Homo sapiens: one gene and its partners. The protein of the gene in region 1 purifies or fractionates together with the protein of each later gene. This does not show direct contact. Each region holds a gene or a part of one and is shown in the gene's direction. Other genes may lie near its edges. The genes, in order: MED13L, ZMYM3, DLD, DLAT, AGAP1, ACAD11 and PPFIA2.

Region 1 (3,500 bases):
CATTTTTTCCTACTTATCATATAAACAAAACATTGATATTTGCAAATAAAAGTAATAATTAAGAAACTTTTGCAGCTGTCTTATGAAAATCCTTGGAAACAGATTTCCATGGTTTTAAAAAGTCGCACCTATCCATTTTTCCACTTTTAAACAATTCTTCCATTAAACTTTTTTATATAGAGTAATCCATTTCCCCTTTTATTATTGTTGATACTAAATTATCAATTATTTTCTCTAATTTAGTAGAAGAATATCTTTCCTCCTGACTCCTAAGTCAAATATTTTAGAATCTACTACAGCTAATAACGTCATTGTTCTGAATATAACTGAGGCTCGAGGTGATGGTGAGGAAGAGGAGGGTGCTAGCCCCCTTATCTTCTCTGTTTCTTCTCACTTCTCTTCCAGTGCTGGACATCAGCATGCTCTCCTCCCAGGATGTGGTTCGTATGCTGTTGTCCCTGCAGCCCTTTCTCCAAGATGCCATCCAAAAGAAGCGCACGGGCAGGACCTGGGAGAACATCCAGCATGTGCAGGGACCACTCACTTGGCAGCAGTTCCATAAAATGGCAGGACGGGGAACCTACGGTAGGGTCTTTGTCCTGTTTAAAATTCCTTCTGACTTCAGTGCTGTTCAGTGAAGAGCAGCGTTAGTTACTGTCAAGTCCTTGCGTCACTAACAAAATAGGGGAGTCTTTTTCTTTGACCATTTAGTTTTATAATCTCTTTGTTTTCCTAAAGTTACTTTTGGAGTCAAGTTTCCTACCACCCTTGGCATAATCCAGGTCAGTGAGGAAGCTAATCCCTAAAAAGTGCATTTTTTAGATTCTCCTCATTTTCCCAATCCTCACTGCATTTTCATCTGGATGGACTTCTGGGCCAGTTCTGTCTACTTCATCATAGTCAGAATCATAATGCTTATCTTGAAGGAAATGATGTAGTGCTGCTTGGAAAGTTAATTTTAACTTGTTCTAGTCTGCCCTCTGATCTTACTGAACCTTTATAAACAAATTCTGACTTACTTAATTAAGAGTCCTCATCAGTGACCATTTAATTAGATGATTTCAAAAATACTTTTAAGAATGTCTTGTGAACATGGAGTGACATTTCAGATGCCAGAATTAAGACCAGTGCACCAGGAATTTCAAAATTGTAAGGTTGTGGGAAAAACTCTCTAGCACCTTTCTACACTACAATGTCATTTTAGGTTCGGAAGAATCTCCTGAGCCGTTGCCCATCCCCACTCTGCTGGTAGGCTATGACAAGGATTTCCTCACCATCTCGCCATTCTCCTTGCCGTTTTGGGAGAGGCTCTTGTTGGACCCATATGGGGGCCACCGTGATGTTGCCTATATTGTGGTGTGTCCAGAAAATGAGGCCTTGCTCGAAGGAGCCAAAACTTTCTTCAGGGACTTGAGTGCTGTATACGAGGTGAGGAAGTTACTGTGAAAATTGCTTTTTATGACTTGGATCCTCTGATTGTTTATAGTGATGACTAAATTTCAAGACAAATGTCTTGAAAGTAAATCTCAGAGAAAATTTGCAAACAGGTGGATGAAGAAGAGAATTGAATTGGCCAATTTTTCTGGAAGCAAATTGCTTTCCCATCTTTGCTTTATATTTGTTAGATTTAGAAAACGTTCCCCTCCCATTCTTACCACACGTCTTAAAATCCCATCAGTTCTCTCTTCTCCATTTATGTGCTAAAAGTTGAAGAATATTGCTCACCAGGGGAAAGTGTGGCTATGTAGAAGATGAGCTTTACCAAAAGAGCACATCTACTCTTTGTATTTATTTACTGGATGGATTGAGGGACAGGGTGAGTAGGTGAGAGTTCCTGACAACAGTGTAAAAATGTGTCTTTTGCAAATTTCTGAATTGAAACATAAGTTTAATGAATAATGTCCCTGTTGTGTTTTAACATGACATCTTAATACTGAAACTTTGATACTGATTAAAAATATAATTCCTATAATAATGTAAAAACCAGGCAGATAATTTTACATCTTTAGTATATGAATTCCTGTTGCTTTAAAAAAAATAGAATCATGTCTGTCTTTGAAGAATAAGTGCCACATTTCTTATGCCAAAGTATATATGCACTAAGTTCTTTGTATCTGATACATCTAATGTCTTTGTATTCAGCAAAATGAAATTAATATCTGTAAAATATTTAGTACTATGATAGGCATGTAAACATTATGAAAGTGGTTTTTAAATAAGATTCCAAGCTGAATTGCAAAATATTCCAAAACAGGACATTCATGATCTATAAATGTATGAGTAGGCACGGAATAGTAAATTTACGTTGTTGCTACAAAGAAATGAGGAGATGCTAACATGATGTAATGACATCAATTAAGTCACTGCCTTGGATACATTCATTTCTGAACAGTGTCTGGTCAGGGCATATATAATACTATTAAATCATAATTAACAGAAAATTTGTGTAAGCAGTTTTAAAGCCCAGCCATTTCCTTGAATGGAACCTTCAACATAAGTTACAAAATGTAAAAAGCACTGCCAGATCTTTTTAAGAGGGTACAGACAGACACTCTTTTAAATTTTTCTTAATGACTTCACTAGGGTTGCTTATTCGGCAGTAATTGATACCTCCTTAGGAAGAGTATACACTAGAGGATTTTGTCGGGGCTTAGTAAGCCTTCACTTCATCTACTCTAGTAAGGGATAATAATACGGGCTCTCCTGCTGGTGAACAGGTAGTTTACTTTTTGCAGGTTTATTATATTCCCTGCCATAAGCACCCATTTAGCGTCATGGAGATTAATAGCAGAATCTCCTTGTCCTATTTACTTTAAAAAAAAAAAAGGCGATCAGCATACTCACTGCTTCAGTGGCCCCTGCTATTGGTGATCTCCAAATGTCTGTAACAGAACAGATGGCCCATAAAATTTTAATGTTATCTTATGGGAAAATATTATGAGTAGGGATTACTTAGGAGATTTTAGTGGGCATATGTCTCAGTTAGCAACAGTAGGCAGGAATCTGCTAATTCTTTGTCCGTTAGCAATCAGGTAGTGTTCAGCAGCCTCCTCTTGTACAGGAGGAATTGGCTTGAGTGAAGAAACATTTTTTTTTTTAGAGAGCCTAGTCCAAGTTTTAGAGAGACAGATAGCAATTTAAGGGTACATTACAATTACCTGAAAGGACCAACTTGTAATGTTGGTTTGATTGCATGTGATAACCCTAAAAGAAAAAGGAAAATGCTTCCATATGTATGTTAAAGAATCTCCCTTGCTAACCATTGGTACTGAATGAAGGAATGGCTCCTGTTATAACTAATGATCTTGTCTATGATATCAGATGTGTAGGCTTGGGCAGCACAAGCCCATCTGCAAAGTGCTACGTGACGGGATCATGCGCGTGGGAAAAACTGTGGCACAGAAGCTGACAGATGAGCTTGTGAGTGAGTGGTTTAACCAGCCTTGGAGCGGCGAGGAGAATGACAATCATTCCAGACTCAAACTTTATGCGCAAGTTTG
Region 2 (2,508 bases), on another chromosome or scaffold:
AAGGGAAATGCTGTCTAGGTTCCAGGTTAGGGGCTCTTTCTGTAATTGTTCAGGAGCTAGGCATGACTAAGGGATGGAGGGGTTAATGGTGATGGAGCTAAGTGAAATTCTCCATGTAGAGTTTTTCTTAATCCTGTCCCTGCACAACATATCACTGCAGCCAAACCCATGCGTATCAAAGAGGATATTCTCGCCTGCTCAGCTGCTGAGCTCAACTACGGTCTGGCCCAGTTTGTGAGAGAAATCACTCGGCCCAATGGTGAACGATATGAACCTGACAGTATCTACTATTTGTGTCTTGGCATCCAGCAGGTACCTCTTGTGCACCACCTCACTTCCTGTCACTCTTAACACAGCAGGCAGGGTCTAAACAGAAATGATTCTGGGTTAGGCACGGTGGCTCACGCCTGTAATCCCAACACTTTGGGAGGCTGAGGCAGGAGGATCGCTTCAAGCCAGGAGTTTGAGACCAGCCTGGGCAACAAAGTGATACCCATCTACCCAAAAAATATTTTTTTAATGAAAAAAAAAAGCAGTTATTCTGTTGCACTCCCTGTTCCTCATCTTGTCCCCTACCTGAAGCAGGCAGCTTGCCTTTAATCTCCTACTCCAAATAGAACATGAGATATCAATACTCTTCTAAAATCAAAACTGCATTCCAGGACCGTTGGCCAAGGAGCAGTCTTCATTGCTATCCAGGTCCCCTTTGTAATCTTTAAGCCCATTCTAGGAGGGGAGGGATGGGTGGAGCTGGGATCCTTGAGTGCTGGGGTAATGTTTAGTTCCCCCTGGGAGAAGTCAACCATGTATTACCTGAGAAGGAGGTGTGGGCTTCTAAAGAACATCTCCTCCAAGCCTCCTCCTCTTCGAGCAAAGCCTGAGTAGCGCAGAGCTGTGGGTATACCTGGGGGAAAGCACTCGAGGCCACCTAATCAAGCAACTGTTTCCCATCGTCTCCTAATGATCAAGGACACCATACCTGGGGGCTTCAGCATCATTATCTTTCTTCTAGGACCTACAGTCTAGCCTTAGGTGTGTCTGTTTTTCTTTCCCCAGTACTTGCTGGAAAATAACCGGATGGTGAACATTTTCACGGACCTTTACTACCTGACTTTTGTTCAAGAACTCAACAAGTCTCTGAGTACCTGGCAGCCCACACTCCTCCCCAACAGTAAGGAACAGGGACGTAGCAACCCCTACCCGCTTTCTCCATTCTTCCAATCCACCATCCCGAGAGTCCTGTGCTGTTTGGTCTGCCACTCTTCACAAAGGGCCCGAGGGCAGGAGCGTGTAGCTGGATGCCTCAGGGTTTAGAGTTAAAGGAGCACAGGAGCGCCTGTTCTTGAACGTGAGATGGGGATCAAGACTTAGGTCTGAAGAGCTATCTCTAGGACCAGAAAAAGATGGCCTGGGTTTGGGTGGTAAGTAAAGAAAGAAAGCAAGAAATCGTGGGACTCCTCAAGGTTTACATTTACTTGTCTACAACTTGAGGGTGGTGAGAGGCGTTCCAAATGCAGGTGTGGAAAGTATATATTTTTTAAAGCCCAGTCCCACTGTGTAGTGTAGCAAGTGTAGCGAAGTGACAGTGTTTTATATACAAAGGTTACTCACCAAATGAGAATTGTGTGGGAAATGAGCAGGGCACATGGGATGGGAAGTGGTTGGGTTTGGGTAGCCACTCCCTCCTGACTGGCCTCTCCCCCTTGACCATTGTAGATACGGTGTTCTCTCGAGTGGAGGAGGAGCACCTCTGGGAGTGTAAGCAACTGGGGGTCTACTCGCCCTTTGTCCTCCTCAACACCCTCATGTTCTTCAACACTAAGTTTTTTGGGCTGCAGACAGCTGAGGAACACATGCAACTCTCCTTCACCAATGTGGTGCGGCAGTCCCGCAAGTGTACCACCCCTCGGGGCACCACCAAGGTGGTGAGCATCCGCTACTATGCCCCAGTCCGCCAGAGGAAAGGGCGAGGTACGAGGCTGCCCCCTCCCCTGTGCTTTTGCCCCTTCTCTGCCTTCCCCTTCCATGCCCTGCCATAACCCACCATACCTGCCAGGTCGGCCCTCTCCTTGGCGCCTAGCTTCCCTCTCCTGTTCCTGTGTGCAGAAAGGGTAGAAACAGCCAGTCCTCCTACCTGATAGGCAGTAGCTGTTGCATAAATAAGAGGTCACCCTCTGGCCTGTTTCCCCTCTTTCCTCATTTAAGACAGTTTACTTGCTTGCCTGCTTTTTCTGGGTGGTGGACAGGTAGGAAACCATTGGGTGTGTTTGGCTGTCGGGGAGGGTAGAATGACAGGCTTTCTGTGATTCTTTGCTATCGGGTCTAACAACAACTGCACCTTGGTTTCCATTTTTTCTGTCCCTGGACTTCTGTCCTGTCTGAGTGAAGTTTCCAAGGTCCTTTCTCTGGACCCATGCTTCTACCTGGACTAATGCACAAGGGGTTGGGGTCATTGCTGTTTCTCTATCCCAGAAGGCAAGCCCACCCTTGCAGTAGGGTCTGTTTTAT
Region 3 (3,500 bases), on another chromosome or scaffold:
GTTCAGAGGATATGTTATCACAGTGGGATATAATGTTTTATTTTGGACTGCCTTTTTACCCAAGGTAGACATTTTATAGTGTTTGATAGGTTCTGTTTCTGTGATACAATGATGTTGGCCTTTTGTCAACTATAATTATAAGTTATTACATTTTGAAACTTTAATACTGCCTTTTATAAGCATTAGGTTGAAATTTTCCAGTTGGTGAGTGAAAAACACTGCATATTGCTTCAAGAATTTAGCTAAGAACTAAAGATTAATTGAACAAATTACAGTGTCCGAAGTTCGCTTGAATTTAGACAAGATGATGGAGCAGAAGAGTACTGCAGTAAAAGCTTTAACAGGTGGAATTGCCCACTTATTCAAACAGAATAAGGTCAGTGTTTAATATTCAGATTTCTGCTTTACTTTGAATACAAATTAAACTTTGCATTATAGAGTGATGATATTTGAACTTGGTTACAGGGGAATATTTATTTAATTTAAAATAGCTTGCTAACCTGAAATAGATTTCCCTGACATATATCACAGATTTTTTTGCTGCACCATGGTGTAGCATTACTAAGTAAGGAAGCATTTTGTTTTAGATAAATTATTTACAGAGTAATTTTTCCTTTGAATGATTTATCAAACAAATTACTTTAAACTTTGTGAATTTATAAAGATTATTTTGTAAAGGTTGTTCATGTCAATGGATATGGAAAGATAACTGGCAAAAATCAAGTCACTGCTACGAAAGCTGATGGCGGCACTCAGGTTATTGATACAAAGAACATTCTTATAGCCACGGGTTCAGAAGTTACTCCTTTTCCTGGAATCACGGTATTTATGCTTCATAATTTACAACCATTACAACTTTTCTTTAGAAATACGTTTTATAAGTTATTTATGCTATTTGTGAACTTTGAGAGATTTCTGACTGAAATACTATATTTTGATGGTCATTCAGCTTTGGGAAGTTACCTGTCTTTATTCTGCAGTGATTCTGACCAGCTATAGAACACTTTATATTAAGATATGTTTGAATACAGTATGAAGTTAAAATTGACCATTGCGTTTGGAATATTGGTGGATAAAATTTAAAGTCAGTGTTTTTAATGGGATTTGATGAAATTAGGTATATAGATACCTCAAAACAAATAAATGACTTAGTATTTTTAGTGATTCTACTGAGATCACAGTTTATAAATACATTTATCTCTTCATATCCTTGGAGGATTGGTTCCAGGACCCCCCTTGGATACCAAAACCCACAGATGCTCAAGTGCCTTACATAAAATGACATAGTATTTGCATATAATCTGCATACTTCCTCCTGTATACTTTAAGTCATCTCTGGATTACTTATAATACCTAATACACTGTAAATGCTATGCAAGTAGTTCCTATGCTGTATTGTTTAGGGAATAATGACAAAAAAACCATGTGTACATGTTCAGTACAGATGCAACCATCAATTTTTTTCCTGAATATTTTCAATTAATGGTTGGTTAAATCTGCAAATTTGGAACCCATGGATATGGAGGGTCGACTGTACTAGGTTTTTTCAAATTATTTTGATTATATCTTTTGTTTTTCTTACAGATAGATGAAGATACAATAGTGTCATCTACAGGTGCTTTATCTTTAAAAAAAGTTCCAGAAAAGATGGTTGTTATTGGTGCAGGAGTAATAGGTGTAGAATTGGTAAGTGTTGTCTTTCTGCCTCTTATTACCTCCTTGGAGTTGGAAGGGACTTAAAGGTCCCCTTTTTGATTTTTTGTATAACATTACAGGCTGATCAGCATTGAGTTTTGCTTAAACACTTCTAGTAATAAAGAGTTTACTTTTGTTTTTTTCAAGACAACCTATTTATGTATTTACTCATTTAGAATGTTCTCCTTTATTTTAGTCTGTTTCCTTGTACCTTCCACCCTTCCATTTCCTAGAACTGGTCGAATTCTTTTTTAATATGACAGCCATTCAGATATTTGAGGACAGCTTTTATCCTGGGCAAATTGCATTCCAAATAAAGATTATTCTCTTTACCATCACATACATGATTTGGCTCTTCCCTTCTCTATCCTCATCTTGATGCCTCTTAACTTAGGTTTTAGAAATGTCAAACTACTTGCATTTCTTTGAACACCATGTTATTTTAGACCTTCTGTCTGCCTTGTTCTCCCTTCTTGTCCATCTGGCAGCTTTCCACACATTTCCAATGACCTCCCTCCATTTTAGAGTCACTGTGCCTTGTAAACACCAGGAATTGCTCTACTTCTGAAATAATAAATTCAGATATTTTATTATGTAACCATGACCTCCTTTCCTCTTTTACTCAGTTATTCATAGTGTACTTTGTACCCTTTTTTAGGTTTTCTAGTCCATAGATCTACTTTTTTGCAATCTTCCCTTTCCAATCTTGACTGCGTTCCTGATCAGCTTAGATGCCATAGTCCATCACTTTAACCACACTCTTACAGATGTCCTTGAGTTGCTTGTCTCACTGTTCTGTCATATCTGCTTGGCAAAACTCTAGTTCGGTTTGAATGCAGCAGTCTGCCTTTTTTATGCTATTTCCAGGCTGTTGACTACACCTGGAGAAAAACACACCCTACTCATTGGTACTTGTATTAATTCTTGGCACAAACCTTAACAAGAACCTCAGCCTTGCTGACAGTTTATTATTTCCTAAGATGGTACACTGCCCTGGTCTCTGCAATGGCCATTTTCATTTTCTACTCTTCTCAAATCTCTGCTTGTATACTGTCTGCTCTGCCTGTGGATGACCTTGTCTTTTAAATATTACATAAAAGAGAAATCAGATGAGAACTCCCTCAAGTTGATGTCCTAAATTTGATAATGCTTTTACCTGTTGTTACACCTATCCTTTTGATTACCTCTCCTATTACTGTGGAAATGCCATTTTCCCTAAGACTAATCCCTTTACTTGTGCTTGGTAGCACATCATCTGCCTTTTCAGAGACTTGGTTTTGTGATTTTTATTCTTGTATTTTTCAGTCTTCAAACTCCTTCCTTTTATTTACAATTTCATGTGCTTCTATGTGTGTACCTGTGATGCATTTGCACTCATTAACACAGGTTTGTGTGCACATAAATGCTCCTTATCTTGGTCCCATGTCCTTCTTGAGTTACCAATTTTGTTCGCACTTTTCCTTCAAAACCCAGCTTCTCAAAAGAGTTGTCCATGCTTTATTTCATCAACTTCCACTCACTCAGTCTATGGCTTGTGCCAATAAATTGCTCTTAGGGCATGAATCTATTTATTGCTCAATCTGTTGGACTAATTTCTTCACTGCTTTATTTGGCAGTAATTAGCATTGCTGATTTTCTTGCCTTTGAAACACTTTGCCTAACTTCTGTGATTTCATATTCTTCCATTTTTACATCTGCTCTTTGGGCTGAATTCTCCATATTATGCAAGTTCCCCTTTCTTAGGCTTCCCTTTAATTGTTAGTATTTTTGTTTTTCTTTTTTTTTTTTTTTGAGTCCGAGTCTTG
Region 4 (3,500 bases), on another chromosome or scaffold:
ATGTTGTTGATGTCAGTGTTGCGGTCAGTACTCCTGCAGGACTCATCACACCTATTGTGTTTAATGCACATATAAAAGGAGTGGAAACCATTGCTAATGATGTTGTTTCTTTAGCAACCAAAGCAAGAGAGGGTAAACTACAGCCACATGAATTCCAGGTAGGGTATTAATTATTGCTTTCTAATTATGTTATTTTTAAGGTTTGCATAATGCATTTATTGCATTTTTCACCTTTTGATTCTGTCACGTAATTTTTTTTTTTTTTTTTTTTTTTGAGACGGAGTCTCTCTGTCACCCAGGCTGGAGTGCAGTGGCATGATCTCGGCTCACTGCAAGCTCCGCCTCCTGGGTTACGCCATTCTCCTGCCTCAGCCTCCCAAGTAGCTGGGACTACAGGCACCTGCCACCACGCCCGGCTAGTTTTTTGTATTTTTAGTAGAGACTGGTTTTCACCATGTTGGCCAGGATGGTCTTGATCTCCTGACCTTGTGATCCGCCTGCCTCAGCCTCCCAAAGTGCTGGGATTACAGGCATGAGCCACCACGCCCAGCGTAATTCTTTTTTGAAACAGAGTCTCACTCTTGTCACCCAGGTTGGAGTACAATGGTGCAATCTTGGCTCACTGCAACCTCCGCCTCCCAGGTTCAAGCAATTCTCCTACCTCTGCCTCCTGAGTAGCTGGTATTACAGGCATGCACCACTGCACCTGACTAATTTTGTGTGTGTGTGTATGTTTTTAGTAGTGTCGGGGTTTCACCATGTTGGCCAGGCTGGTTTCAAACTCCTGACCTCAAATGATCCACCCGCCTCACCCTCTCGAAGTGCTGGGATTACAGGTGTGAGCCACTGTGCCTGGCCTGCCACGTAACTCTTATTGACACACCGTTCTGAAAATAAAGTAAAATTCAATCATATATCCAAAAGAAGATATTGTTTGAAAATAAGACATTTTCCGGCTGACATTTTTGTTCATATTGTAATGGTTGTATATCTTCAGTAATGTGTATTCCATTCAGGCCTTTCTTAAGACCTTGCACCTTTTTAGCTTAAGGTCTTTTCACAGAACATTTGTCAAGTTTTCTGATTTATGTTGACAAACTATAATTTATTTTTAATTTTTTTTCCTCTAGGGTGGCACTTTTACGATCTCCAATTTAGGAATGTTTGGAATTAAGAATTTCTCTGCTATTATTAACCCACCTCAAGCATGTATTTTGGCAATTGGTGCTTCAGAGGATAAACTGGTCCCTGCAGATAATGAAAAAGGGTAAGTGCCAAAATGGAGGGGAAGTCGTAAGCTAATTTTTATTACACTGTACACTTGTCCTGTGGTATCCTCAGGGGATTGGCTCCAGGAACCCCCTCAAATATCGTGATCCACAATGCTCAAGTCCCTGATATGATATGATGTAATATTTGCATATAACCTACACACATTATTCTGTATACTTTATTCTTGACTTATAATAATACAATACCTAAACAGCACTTCATTCACATGGATCCAGTGTAGTGCCCGGTGTGCAGCAAATTCAAGTTGTGCTTACTGGAAATTTGTGGAATTGTTTACTTTCTGGATATTTTGATCCATGGTTGGTTGAATCTATGGATTCGGAACCCATGGATATATGGAGGGTCAACCATACCTGTTTTTGAGTATCAGTGTTTTTTTTGTTTGTTTGTTTGAGATGGAGTCTCACTCACCCTGTCACCCAGGCAGAAGTGCAGTGGTGCCATCTCGGCTCACTGCAATCCCCGCCTCCCAGGTTCAAATAATTCTCCTGCCTCAGCCTCCCAAGTAGCTATAGCTGGGATTACAGGCATGTACTACCACACTTGGCTAATTTTTGTATTTTTAGTAGACATGTTGTTTCACCATGTAGGCCAGGCTGGTCTTGATCCTGACCTCAAATGATCTGCTCACCTCAGCCTTCCAAAGTGCTGGGATTACAGGAATGAGCCAGTGTGCCTGGCCAGAGTCTCAGTTTTATATATAGTTATTGGCATGCTATATTGTATCTTCAAATAAAATTATATATATATAAAAAATACGAAATTCTTCAAGGCAGCAACTTTACTAAATGCAGTTAGTCCTATTTGAGGTGGAAAGCCTTATTTATTCTAGGTGAGGAGTCAGCATGCTTTTTTTTAGTTGTATAGTAAGTATTTTAGGCTTTCTGGGACATATGGCTGCTGTTGCAAATAATCTGCCATTGTAGTATGAAGGGAGGCATAAACAAGACAAATGAATTGCAGTAAATCTTTACCTAATAAAAACAGGCAGAGGACAGGATTTGGCCCATTGCCCACCCATACTCCAGGTATCTGGTCTGTTTCTTCAAGCTATAAATTTGAGCTAAAGGTATAGGAGACTGGAAGAGTAGATAGGAAGTATTACCTGGTTGGGATTATAGGGTAGGAGTGAGCATTTGGGTGGTTACTGGCTGAAATGCAGTATTTTCTTTCAGAATATCTAAAATGTCTTTATCTTTTTCTAGGTTTGATGTGGCTAGCATGATGTCTGTTACACTCAGTTGTGATCACCGGGTGGTGGATGGAGCAGTTGGAGCCCAGTGGCTTGCTGAGTTTAGAAAGTACCTTGAAAAACCTATCACTATGTTGTTGTAACTAACTCAAGAATTTCTAAACTCTCCCAGGTCACACTGATTCATTCTTAACAAGATATTTATATGTTATTAAACAGGTGGTTCTTTTTATTTTAACCAGTTATTTTTATTATTGAGTCTGTCCAGATAAGTTATTTATAATGGGCATTACTGAATTTTTAAAATGCCGATTACACCCAAATATTGTGCACATTTAATAATCAGACACCAGATTTTTAGCTCTGTACTCCTAATTAAGGGACATGTATGTGGCCTTGCCTAGCCCTTTGGTGATAAGTACTTCCTCTAGGAAATGTACGATAGGTAGAATTGTGGTTCCCTAAAGACAAGTACATAAAGGTGACCCTGATGAAACCTTGAAGTTCTGAAATTTAACTGCCTAAAATGTTCTCCTTAGATGTGAGAGAAAGAGAAATCAGAAAAATTAATTCTCTTGGGGGAAGGGCTTGAATTGAAGCTTTACTTTAGAATTTAGCCCTGGTTTGAAATTTTCCATTACATGATCTTGGTTTATCATCGATGGGAAGGGTAGAAAACTTCAAGGAAAATAAGTGAAATTTTAAAAGTCAGCATTTTCTTAGACCTCTTCAGCTGATTGTTTATTTTTCTATGAATTCCTACACATGGTTATTCCCCCCTACTTGAGATAATCTAAATATAAACCAGCTACTTGATGTAACTGAGAATTTGTGTGGATATTTATTTAAACAAATGTGTAATTTTGAGTACAGAATTCAACAGTTACCTCCAAAAAAGAAACATTGTTAATATAATTTAACAGAAGTTGTGAAACTAAAATTTTCTAAGATTAACTGGTAGTTCATTGTAAATGAACATAATGAACAGAATTTATGACTCCACTGTGGAAAATGC
Region 5 (2,626 bases), on another chromosome or scaffold:
AAGAAATACTGCCCTTAAATAGACTGTTGAAATATTAATGGCCCCCCCATTTAATCAGTGTGTCTGCGGCTTTCTTCGCGTCACATGTCCGCATTGGCAGGTGATTCTGGAAAGGGATTCTGGGAAACCAACAAGTCTTTTTTAAATCTTTGAGTTGTATGAGAAAGTATTTAAGTTCACCAGTGTAGTAAACACCCACCCCAGAGCAGCGGTAAGCAAACCTAAATCTGAAAACCCATTCTTACTGTCTTTCACCATGAGATGCTGGTTTTGGTGTAAAATGACAGCACTTGGTTTGGGGTTTTGCACCTGTTGGGTAGAACTGTTCTTGTCTGAGGTCCTCACCCTCTACAGATGGGCCTCAGGGCCTGGAGGTGGGCAGATGGGGCCAGAGTGGCCAGCAGAGACTTGCATGGGCTCTGAAAGCCCCAGAGCTCAGGCCTAAGGCTGCTAGGTGAGACCAGCAGGCAGCTGTGGCATCCGACCTTGGGACGCCCAAGCTGGGCAGCCGCTCCATGTGCCCCAAACAGGATATCCTCATGAATGTGAGGAGAGGCTGGCTCAGGGCTTGGTTTTCATTTTGGCCTGGCACAGGGTACCTGTAGGGAGCACTCCCCCAACCTGAGGATGGTGAAACCATATGATAGAGACTCCTTGTCGAAGTCCACATCGGACTGATCTAGAATGCCCCGTGGGGGGATTGCATGGCCTTTGCCTTGAGATGCAGGTGAAAGAAAGGAACCAAACAAGGCATGAGTGTGTTGGGGAATCTTCCCAGTGGAGCAAACCCCCTTAACACACCAGCTGTTGGGAACAGCTGCCCCTAAATCCAATTAAACCCTCATCTCCCTGGTGCTGAACAGTCTACACTGGCCCAGGAAGCTAACGTCTGAGCCGCTTGGAGAGCTTTGGTAAACAGAAGACACTGGAAGCCCACTCGGTCAGCAGCTGGGCATGAGGATGTCAGGGGCCTTTGGACTTGAGGAAGGACAGTCCAGGTGCATGGAATCCTAATGGGCCTCATGCAGACACTGGAAGCAGCCCAGCCCCCTGCCCAATACCACAGCCCTGGGGTGTCCCCTGACATTCCTGGAGGTCCCTGGGCAAATGCATTTCCTGCCTGGGTTCTCAGGGTAGGAGAACAGAGAAGGCTCCAAGGGTGTTGGGAGTGAGCCAGGGGCTGGTCTGGGGAGTGGGTCTCACGCACTGCTCAGGTTGGCACGAGGGACCTCCCCCATCCCAACCCAGCCCCAAGGGTCCCAGCAGGGCTCTCAGCATGGCTGTTTTGAGGGTACACAGGTGGCTGGAGAGGGGTGGGGCAGTTGCATGGTGGGTGGCAAAGTGTGCATTTAGAAGCTGCTTCGTGGCGTTAAGAACGGGGGGAGAGGGACCAGCACTGTAACGTTAGAAATAATTCCTTCTTGCAGACTTGAAAAGCATCAGTTTCCCTCCCACGGCTGGGTTTTTGTGTCTGAAATACATCTAATTCTCCAGACTGCAGCCCCTCTCAGCCCCGAGCACCTGAGCGCTGGGGAGGCCCTTATTGAGCTCAGCCTGGAGAGGGGAGGGTCGCACGGGTCCCGGGGGCAGGTCTCCTGCACTGGCTCTTCCCTTCTGCCAGCTTGGAATTTGGTTCTCATCTTGCCACAGGGGTGCGTTTCCTAAAGGGCAGCCGGAGCAGCTCAAAGGTGACAACTGAGATGCATTTCTAGGCAGGGGCAGGGAAGGCCAACCCACCTTGCAGCCAGTTTTCTGTTTCTGTAAATAGCAGTGTATAGAGATGGAAGGGCAGCGTGGGTGTATCCACAGATGGGTTTAGGTTTTTTTTTTGGATGTTTTCTATTACCTCATTCAGCAACTTTATGTTTCACAATGACTCAATGATGCTTTATTTATATTGTTTGTACTGTAATTAAAACCATTGACAGACATTTCACTTTGCTTGTTATTTCATATGATCTTGTTTTGATTAAATATGCCAGTTTGTATTTTCCTGCCTTGGGATTTTTTTGTGTCCGCTGTACAGTATTCTAAGGGAAAAAGAAAAAGAAAGATGTGTAAAGTAACAGAGAGAGGTGGCTATGGTGTAGAGACCTCTTTCTAATAAAGAAATGAAAATATGTCTACACCGCTTCCGTGGAGTTGTTGTTTTTTGTTTTTTGTTTTTTTTTTTTTTGGTGGCGTTGGTCATTTGTCACAACTAATTGTGTTTCTAAGCCCAGGAAAGGTAAATCAGAGAGAAAAGGGGCTCTGTCTGCTGCGGGCAGGGATTGCCCCAGGCCCAGGCTGCCCCAGGCCCGAGGGACTCAGCACACGAGTTCACAGACGGAATGAAGAAAGAGACCAGGAGTGTCTCTTCTGACTTCTTCCTTTACAAGGACAGAAACTCCAAGAGAATGTTCTTTGCCCAGCCAGGGTTGACTGGGCCCAGAACTTCCAGATGCTTCTGTATCTTTGCACTGTGCCACACTGCCCCAGGTGTGTCGTAAGAACTATTCCCAGCAGGTGGCTAGCAGTAGAACCATCCCAGGACTCTATTATTAAGACCGTTATTATCATTAATATTACTGTAATTTTTGCCTACAAACTACATTATATCTTCCCCTCCAAAAAAAAAAAATGAGAA
Region 6 (3,500 bases), on another chromosome or scaffold:
CTGCCTACCTTTGAGACTGGTTCTAATCCCAAGTGGTATCTGGTTTACTGCTTAAAAGGATTTGGGAATTTTACATGCATGATGCTGTTTTCTTCAAATAAGTTTTCATCTACTAGTTACAATATTTAGCTTATCCATGTTCTTGCTGTTTTTTCTGGTTCATTTATACTTCTTTGGGGTTTTTAGCCCTATCTCATGAAGAATTTATTATTTGTTTATTATAAACTCTGAGAATAGAGAATTCCAAAAGCTTCTTGAGGCTTCAAAAGAATTACATGAGATTAATATAACCTTGCTCAATGTAAATGTGCATACTGTATTCTTTATAAAGAGTATAAACAAATGAAAGCTGTAATCCTCCACTGAGCACCTACAATGAGGCCTAGGATTACAGTATAGTAGGAATGAATCCTGCTTCTGAGAGGAGGATTTTCTGGGTTCATTAGTTTCTTAGAATGCTAAGATGTTTTAGGGCAGGAAGAGCTAGTGGCACTGATGAATTCTGAATTCTAACCTTGTTAATTATCTACCCTGAGATTAGAAAAATTAAATATGCTAATTTATAATCTAGATAATTATAAAAGCATATGCCTGAAAACATAGCAGGATCTGGCCTGTATTTGATCTGTGTCATTTAATTAATATTTTAGTCGAGTCTACATAATATTGAGTCTCTATAGTAGATAACAAATTAGAACCCACTAGACTTGGAGTTCCTTTAAAACAATGACTGTATCTTATTCATCTTTATATTGCAGGTGCTTATATGATTCTGATGAATCTATGTTGAAGGGATTAATTTTAGTTAATTATTCACTAGCAACTATTTCCATCTCATAAATTTATGCTTAACTTTCATTCCCTAGCAGTGTGAACTTAAAGCATGTTATTCAATCTCTCTCTGTGCCTCTATTTTTATTTTAACTTTTTGTTTTGAAATAATTAGAGTCCCCAAAAAAGTTGTAACAGTGTTATAGTACAGAGAAGTCCTGTGTATCCATCATCCAAATTCTGCAAAATGGATATTATACAACTATGGTACATTATCAAAGCCAGGAAATTGACATTGTGTACCTTTTAAAATTGAAAAAAAAAATTCTGAGTTGCTGGGCAGCTAAAATGAAACAGTCAATGTGGAGCAACTAGCTGGTACCTGGCACATCAATGATGCTCAGTTTATTTCAGGTACCCTCATTTTTCCATTTTTTCCCCTTCATTTTTCTCTCTGACTTTTCTTAGACTACTTGTCAAGCTTCTTCAGAAAAATATTAGGGTATAAGTAAATGCTTCATAATATGTACGAAAACCTAAACAGTGGTTGTAGGGGATAGAATTATAGGAGACATAATTGTACATTTCTGTAATGTTTAGGGTTTGATGTTTTTTGGTTTTTATTTTTAAAACAACAGCATGTTTAATTTTTGTCATCAGAAAACACAACAATTAAGAAAGAAGAATAAACAATTTTAAATGACAAACCTTCCAGGAATGTGTGGAGTAAGCCAGTAAAGGAAACTACAGGATATGGCAAAACGAAATTATTTTCTGTTACTTATTTACAAAGTATTTAAAGCATGTTTGGGCAAGTATTTCAGTAGCACAATAGGCTCACTGCAATGTTGAAAAGAAATCCAGTTTTCCTGGAAAATGTTGATTTTCCAAATATAAATTTTACCAGTAGAGAAATGTTTAAGATCTTGGAGTTTAATGTAAAATCTGCATATTGTCATTTCAACTTGAAAAATATATTTAATTAGAAACATCCATTGGAACTTGTCAACTTCAGTGATCTAGAAATTGAAACCCCTTATTTTTGACCTCACCCTCTTTACCTTCTGTTCTTTTATTTCTCTGCATCTTCCCTGAGACACTGCAAATTTGATTGCTGTTAATTTAGAATCCATAAGCCCTTCATGACTTCACTTGACTTCTTATCCTACATAAGCCACATGGTCATAATCAGTCATCTCAAAAACTACCTTTAGTATCAATTTCATTAATAATTTTTTGACTATAGATGTATGCAAGTAATGTAAGAATTATAAAGTGTCCTGACCTTAGGTTACTTATTATTCTAGAATCTTCCCACCCTGACTTTATATCATCATTATTATTATTATTTTACTTTTTATTTTTTCTAATAACCCTACAGGGGATGTCCATCACCCCTTGACTTTAACCAGTTTCTAGCCCTAAACTTGAATCCTCATATTTTTGCTGCAGAATAAAGTCGTGAAGTAAGGTTAATTGGATCTGGGACATTTTTATGCCACATGATTTTATCTAGGCTGTAACTTCATCTCTTAGTAAAACCTGTGACATTTAAAAAATGGCTTTTCTAAATCTTTTCCCTTCTTCTCAAACTCTCACATTTCTTGTCCCATCTCGGTTCCCACTCTCAGCATGTGGTCTTGTCTTCTACCTAACTCATCTTTGTCCTTTCAGTCATTTTCCAGCATAGCCTGCTTTCTAGGAATTACACCATGCCCCTCAAAGTTCTCTTTATATTGTTGAAGACATTTTCGTCCGCTACACAATATCACCTGTATGCAGATTGATGGGTGATATTTTTCTTTAGCCTCATTGCCAAGAAAATTTGTCCCTCTTGAGCAGCTGGTTTGTTTTTGACCTGCATACACTATAAAGATTGTGACTGACCATGCTTCACACTTTATTTTACCCGCTATAAAATTCAAAGCAAATTTTACTACCCACACTAACAACTATGCATGTCCTATCACATTCAATTATGTGTAATAACCTTACTCCTAGCTTCATCTTTTCATTACAAATTCTATTATTTTCTTCCCTGCCTTCTTCATCTACTGTTTGTTCTGTTGGATTGTATGTATTTTTTGTTTGTTTCGAATGCCAATACACATACATATTAATAAAATTCAATGGTGTAAAAAGTATACATAAAATGAATCTCTTTATAAAGAAGATAATTTAAAAAACTAAAAGCTTTCTGTTGAGCTGAGGTTTCAGAAAAACTATCAAAAATAATTTTACTAATAAGTTCCCTAGCAGCAGTAAGACGAACTAGTAAATGTCCAGATCAACCACTAAAAGTTATGTTGAGCTTTTAATAACTCTCAACACAAACAGGCATCAACAGGACTCTAATTAGCTATTGCTAATTAATTTGCACTAATTTATGCAATTTGATGAGCCATCAGCTTTTCTCACTGGCTGTTGTTTTATAGCTTTGTGTTTTTACCCCAAAAATGGTTCAGATATTCTGAAAAGTAACTCCAGAGAAGTTTCCCAATTGTATTAAAAAAGAAAAGTAATCATTTATAGCATAAGTAAGTGCCTCATCTTTACTTTGGATGTTAAAAGCATAGATAACAAATAGAATGATGTAAGAGAAAAATGCATCCATCCTCTTCAGTAGTTTCACAAATCTAGCTAGTATAGTAATTTATAATACTTATAATATTATAAATTTATAGTATAATATAACCACAATAAAAGCTCTTATAAAGTCATAGAGAAAG
Region 7 (3,500 bases), about 35 Mb from region 1:
TAAAAAGACTATATAAGTTTAATGGCTGTAAGAAATAGAAAGGTAGGATGGAAGGTTCTATACGAAAATGTAGTCTCAAATAATTCAGGAAGTAACAACATAATTTGTGAGAAAAGTCATGGAAAGAGGGACCACAACCAAAAAAATCTTGTGTATCGGGGAACGAGTTAAATAAATGATGGTATTTACACTTCAAAAGACTACATTAAGAAAAGTGTTGTATCACTTCCATTTTATTGATGAGGAAATGTAATATTAGAGCAGGTAAGTAATCAGCCTATTTATTCAACATTTAAGAAAAATCAGAATTCAAATCCCTCTCTAATTCCAAAACTCTAAGTGATATTCAGAGGAAAGTTTTGTACATGATTTATTATTATTATTATTATTATTATTATTATTATACTTTAAGTTTTAGGGTACATGTGCACAATGTGCCGGTTAGTTACATATGTATACATGTGCCATGCTGTTTTTAGAAGCTGTTATTGGGAATAAGTATAGTTTGGCTGGCAGGGAGGACAAAGAGGGTATTTTATAAGATGTTTCAGAAGCAAAATTCTGACAGCAAAAATGGCCATGCTTAGCAGAAACAATCAGAGAAGAGTCATGGTGGGATCACAGAACTGTGAAAACACTAACATGTATTAGGAATAGTTCAGAAACACGCTTAAGAGTTTAGCTGGGTTGTGGGTTTAAAAAGGTTTTCCACAGCATCAGAATCAATCCGAAAGCAGTTATTGAAAAAAGATTCTCCTGATGGCAATATGCTAGTTGAATAGAGCAAAGGAATTATATAAAAATGCCTACCTACCTAAGCTGTTAAAAGGAACCTAAGATTGGGTGACAAAAGTCCTGACAATTTCATGAAGTTCCTCAAAGTTACAAGGTCTTTATTATAGATAAACACATTTATAAATAACAGCTTTACATAAAAACAAACAAAATATTTCCCTAGAACTTTAAAAATTTTTGTTTAGCCATACTAAGAACTTTTTTCATCAGAACTCTAAAGCCATAAGTCTTTAGCTGTGTTTTCTACAATCCTGATCTCTCCATATTGTGATACACAACGATGCCATGAAAAATATGCAGCATTGTTGTAAAAACTATGTCTCTACAATTAACTTGACATTGGAAAAAATTTTAAGTTACAGCTCTATATCTTCATCTCTGACAAAATGGATAGTATCCTGAGTCATTCTGGATTCTGTACTAAAGTGTTCTTTAAGGAAATCCCTCCCATCTCATCTTCTTTTGGTTTTCTGTATGTCTTTGCCAGTTTTCCCATCATGGTAGTAAAATGGAACAATTTGAAAACATTACTATCTTACCTTTTATTATTCTCTTTAAAAAGAGATTTTTTTCTTACAAACCACAACTCATATTTTAAATACCCTGTAATAAATTTCATTAGGCTGACTGATTTAAAACACTTTATCTGATAAAGTTATATTTTATCAACTTCTCATTTCAAAAATCCCTACTTAAAAGATGTCTTTATTATGATAGCCTGAGTATGTATAATGCTATATGTTAGTGAATTGTTCAAATGTGTGTTTAATACCTTTTTGTAAAGAGTTTATATTCTGATGTTATAAAATATCATAGATCAATGTCAATAAACACTATAGATCAATAGTCAGCAACTAGTTGATTTATGGCAGCAGTGTCTAATCTTTTGGCTTCCCTGGGCTACATTAGAAGAAGAATTGTCTTGGGCCACACATAAACTACTCTAACACTAATGATAGCTAATGAACTTTAAAAAAAAGGTCCGTGCATAAATCGTTTTAAGACAGTTTACGAATTCGTGTTGGGCTGCATTCAAAGCCGTCTTGGGCTATATGTTTCCAGCAGGCTGTGGGTTGGAAAAGCTTGATCTATGGTGTTTATTAATCAAACATTTTTGTGTAGTGGGTCTATGATTTTTTTTTAATTTTAATGTGTCCAATTTAAATATTTGTGAAAATCAAACTCTTTAATGGGAATTTATGTATGTAAGACTTAAATGCCCCAAGTTTTGTTGTTTTATTTTGTATTAAAATTACTCGACAGCCTTGTTCTCATGATTCTCCATTTGTGTCAATTTCAACTGAAATTTAGAAAGGGTTTATTTGAATGTATTGTTTTTGCTTCTAGATTGCAGTTGTGGAAGAAGATGGTCGAGAGGACAAAGCAACAATTAAATGTGAAACTTCTCCTCCTCCTACCCCTAGAGCCCTCAGAATGACTCACACTCTCCCTTCTTCCTACCACAATGATGCTCGAAGGTAAGACTCTGCAGGCACACTGCACACTGAATGCCCTCCTTCCAAAAATATTCCTCTTCCTTCGTTGTTGTCGAATAGACTGCTTAACAATTTACATTATTTGAGCCAGAATTCTCCAGCTTCCCTTTCCCAGTATCACTTGTGAAATAACCAAATTTCAATTTTGATATCAAATTTGTATTTTTAAAGTTAACTGTATCTTTGTGGTCTTATTATTGGTCAATATAGATAAGAATAACTCTTCTATTTTTTAGTGGATATTTTCTATTACAATGAGATCAGGCTAGAGGAAGGACTTACTAGAAATATTAACAAAAAACTAAGGAGACTGTAGGACAAGATCATAAATTTGGATTGCAGTATAAGCGTAATTAAAGTCTGAAAAGTATATGATTGTGCCTTTTAGCAGACAGGTATGTGCATCCTGTGGGTACTGCTGCTGCCAGCAGTAATAACTCCTCAGTCAGAAAGTTATTAGAAAATAAAAAAATCCTTGGCTAAAATATTAAATAAAAAGATAAGTCTAGATGGAGAAATATGTCATTTGTCATCACAATTCTTTATACTGTCTTATCCATATGCATAAAGCACTGCAAACAGATCTCTATAATCACTGATGATATGAATATACCTAAGCATGTAGTTTATATCTGAAATATATCTTCTCTTATTGTCTCATCAATTGCAGCATCTGTAGACACATAATTAATATAACCAAATATAATGACTTAAGGATGAATGCTTCAATAAAAATATCTATCTTCTAGATATTATGTTTTACAATAAATGCTTTTAAAAGTAGGGCTTTCTGTGTTGGCAGTCATTTCTTTTTTCCAACTATTTTTTGTTGTTAATGTGGAAAAATCAGTTACTTCAGCTTCAAAATATTACTTCTTTCACTCTCCAAAAAAGAGTATATTTCAACATATAAAAAGCTATTGCTTGAAGGTTAGGGAATGTGAGTTCAAATTAATTCACATGAGTAAGTAAAAGTAAGTAATTTATCATGGTGTTATAAAATTAACAACTATAGAAACTAATAACAATGTCTATTGATCCCATCCTATTAATACGGTGTCAAATATATTGACCATAAATTGAAACTTAACCAACTGCTTGAAAAGCATTTCAGTTTAACATGTATTTAAAATAATATTTGAGTACTCTAATTAGGAAAACACATACATTGATCACGAGGATACATGGTTTGTTGCTTCCAAATTGCAC

The links.
Region 2: the proteins of MED13L (region 1) and ZMYM3 purify together in Homo sapiens (affinity purification with mass spectrometry; one large-scale study listed by BioGRID and IntAct). This does not show direct contact.
Region 3: the proteins of MED13L (region 1) and DLD purify together in Homo sapiens (affinity purification with mass spectrometry; one large-scale study listed by BioGRID and IntAct). This does not show direct contact.
Region 4: the proteins of MED13L (region 1) and DLAT purify together in Homo sapiens (affinity purification with mass spectrometry; one large-scale study listed by BioGRID and IntAct). This does not show direct contact.
Region 5: the proteins of MED13L (region 1) and AGAP1 purify together in Homo sapiens (affinity purification with mass spectrometry; one large-scale study listed by BioGRID and IntAct). This does not show direct contact.
Region 6: the proteins of MED13L (region 1) and ACAD11 purify together in Homo sapiens (affinity purification with mass spectrometry, with the first as the bait; 2 studies listed by BioGRID). This does not show direct contact.
Region 7: the proteins of MED13L (region 1) and PPFIA2 purify together in Homo sapiens (affinity purification with mass spectrometry; one large-scale study listed by BioGRID and IntAct). This does not show direct contact.

What each region holds. Positions count from the first base shown.
Region 1 is NC_000012.12:115,984,194-115,987,693, reverse strand, and holds part of MED13L (mediator of RNA polymerase II transcription subunit 13-like), read left to right. Parts: intron 1-405; coding exon 406-585; intron 586-1,204; coding exon 1,205-1,428; intron 1,429-3,321; coding exon 3,322-3,500. UniProt on the Homo sapiens protein: Component of the Mediator complex, a coactivator involved in the regulated transcription of nearly all RNA polymerase II-dependent genes.
Region 2 is NC_000023.11:71,241,633-71,244,140, reverse strand, and holds part of ZMYM3 (zinc finger MYM-type protein 3), read left to right. Parts: intron 1-160; coding exon 161-312; intron 313-1,056; coding exon 1,057-1,171; intron 1,172-1,716; coding exon 1,717-1,971; intron 1,972-2,508. UniProt on the Homo sapiens protein: Plays a role in the regulation of cell morphology and cytoskeletal organization.
Region 3 is NC_000007.14:107,904,683-107,908,182, forward strand, and holds part of DLD (dihydrolipoyl dehydrogenase, mitochondrial isoform 1 precursor), read left to right. Parts: intron 1-275; coding exon 276-376; intron 377-678; coding exon 679-822; intron 823-1,584; coding exon 1,585-1,686; intron 1,687-3,500. UniProt on the Homo sapiens protein: Lipoamide dehydrogenase is a component of the glycine cleavage system as well as an E3 component of three alpha-ketoacid dehydrogenase complexes (pyruvate-, alpha-ketoglutarate-, and branched-chain amino acid-dehydrogenase complex).
Region 4 is NC_000011.10:112,059,908-112,063,407, forward strand, and holds part of DLAT (dihydrolipoyllysine-residue acetyltransferase component of pyruvate dehydrogenase complex, mitochondrial isoform 2 precursor), read left to right. Parts: coding exon 1-158; intron 159-812; exon of another isoform or gene 813-830; coding exon of another isoform or gene 831-887; intron 888-1,130; coding exon 1,131-1,267; intron 1,268-2,498; coding exon 2,499-2,628; 3' UTR 2,629-3,500.
Region 5 is NC_000002.12:236,129,668-236,132,293, forward strand, and holds the end of AGAP1 (arf-GAP with GTPase, ANK repeat and PH domain-containing protein 1), read left to right. Parts: 3' UTR 1-2,126; downstream 2,127-2,626. UniProt on the Homo sapiens protein: GTPase-activating protein for ARF1 and, to a lesser extent, ARF5. Directly and specifically regulates the adapter protein 3 (AP-3)-dependent trafficking of proteins in the endosomal-lysosomal system.
Region 6 is NC_000003.12:132,635,810-132,639,309, reverse strand, and holds part of ACAD11 (acyl-CoA dehydrogenase family member 11), read left to right. Parts: intron 1-3,500. UniProt on the Homo sapiens protein: Acyl-CoA dehydrogenase, that exhibits maximal activity towards saturated C22-CoA.
Region 7 is NC_000012.12:81,339,851-81,343,350, reverse strand, and holds part of PPFIA2 (liprin-alpha-2), read left to right. Parts: intron 1-2,142; coding exon 2,143-2,273; intron 2,274-3,500. UniProt on the Homo sapiens protein: Alters PTPRF cellular localization and induces PTPRF clustering. May regulate the disassembly of focal adhesions.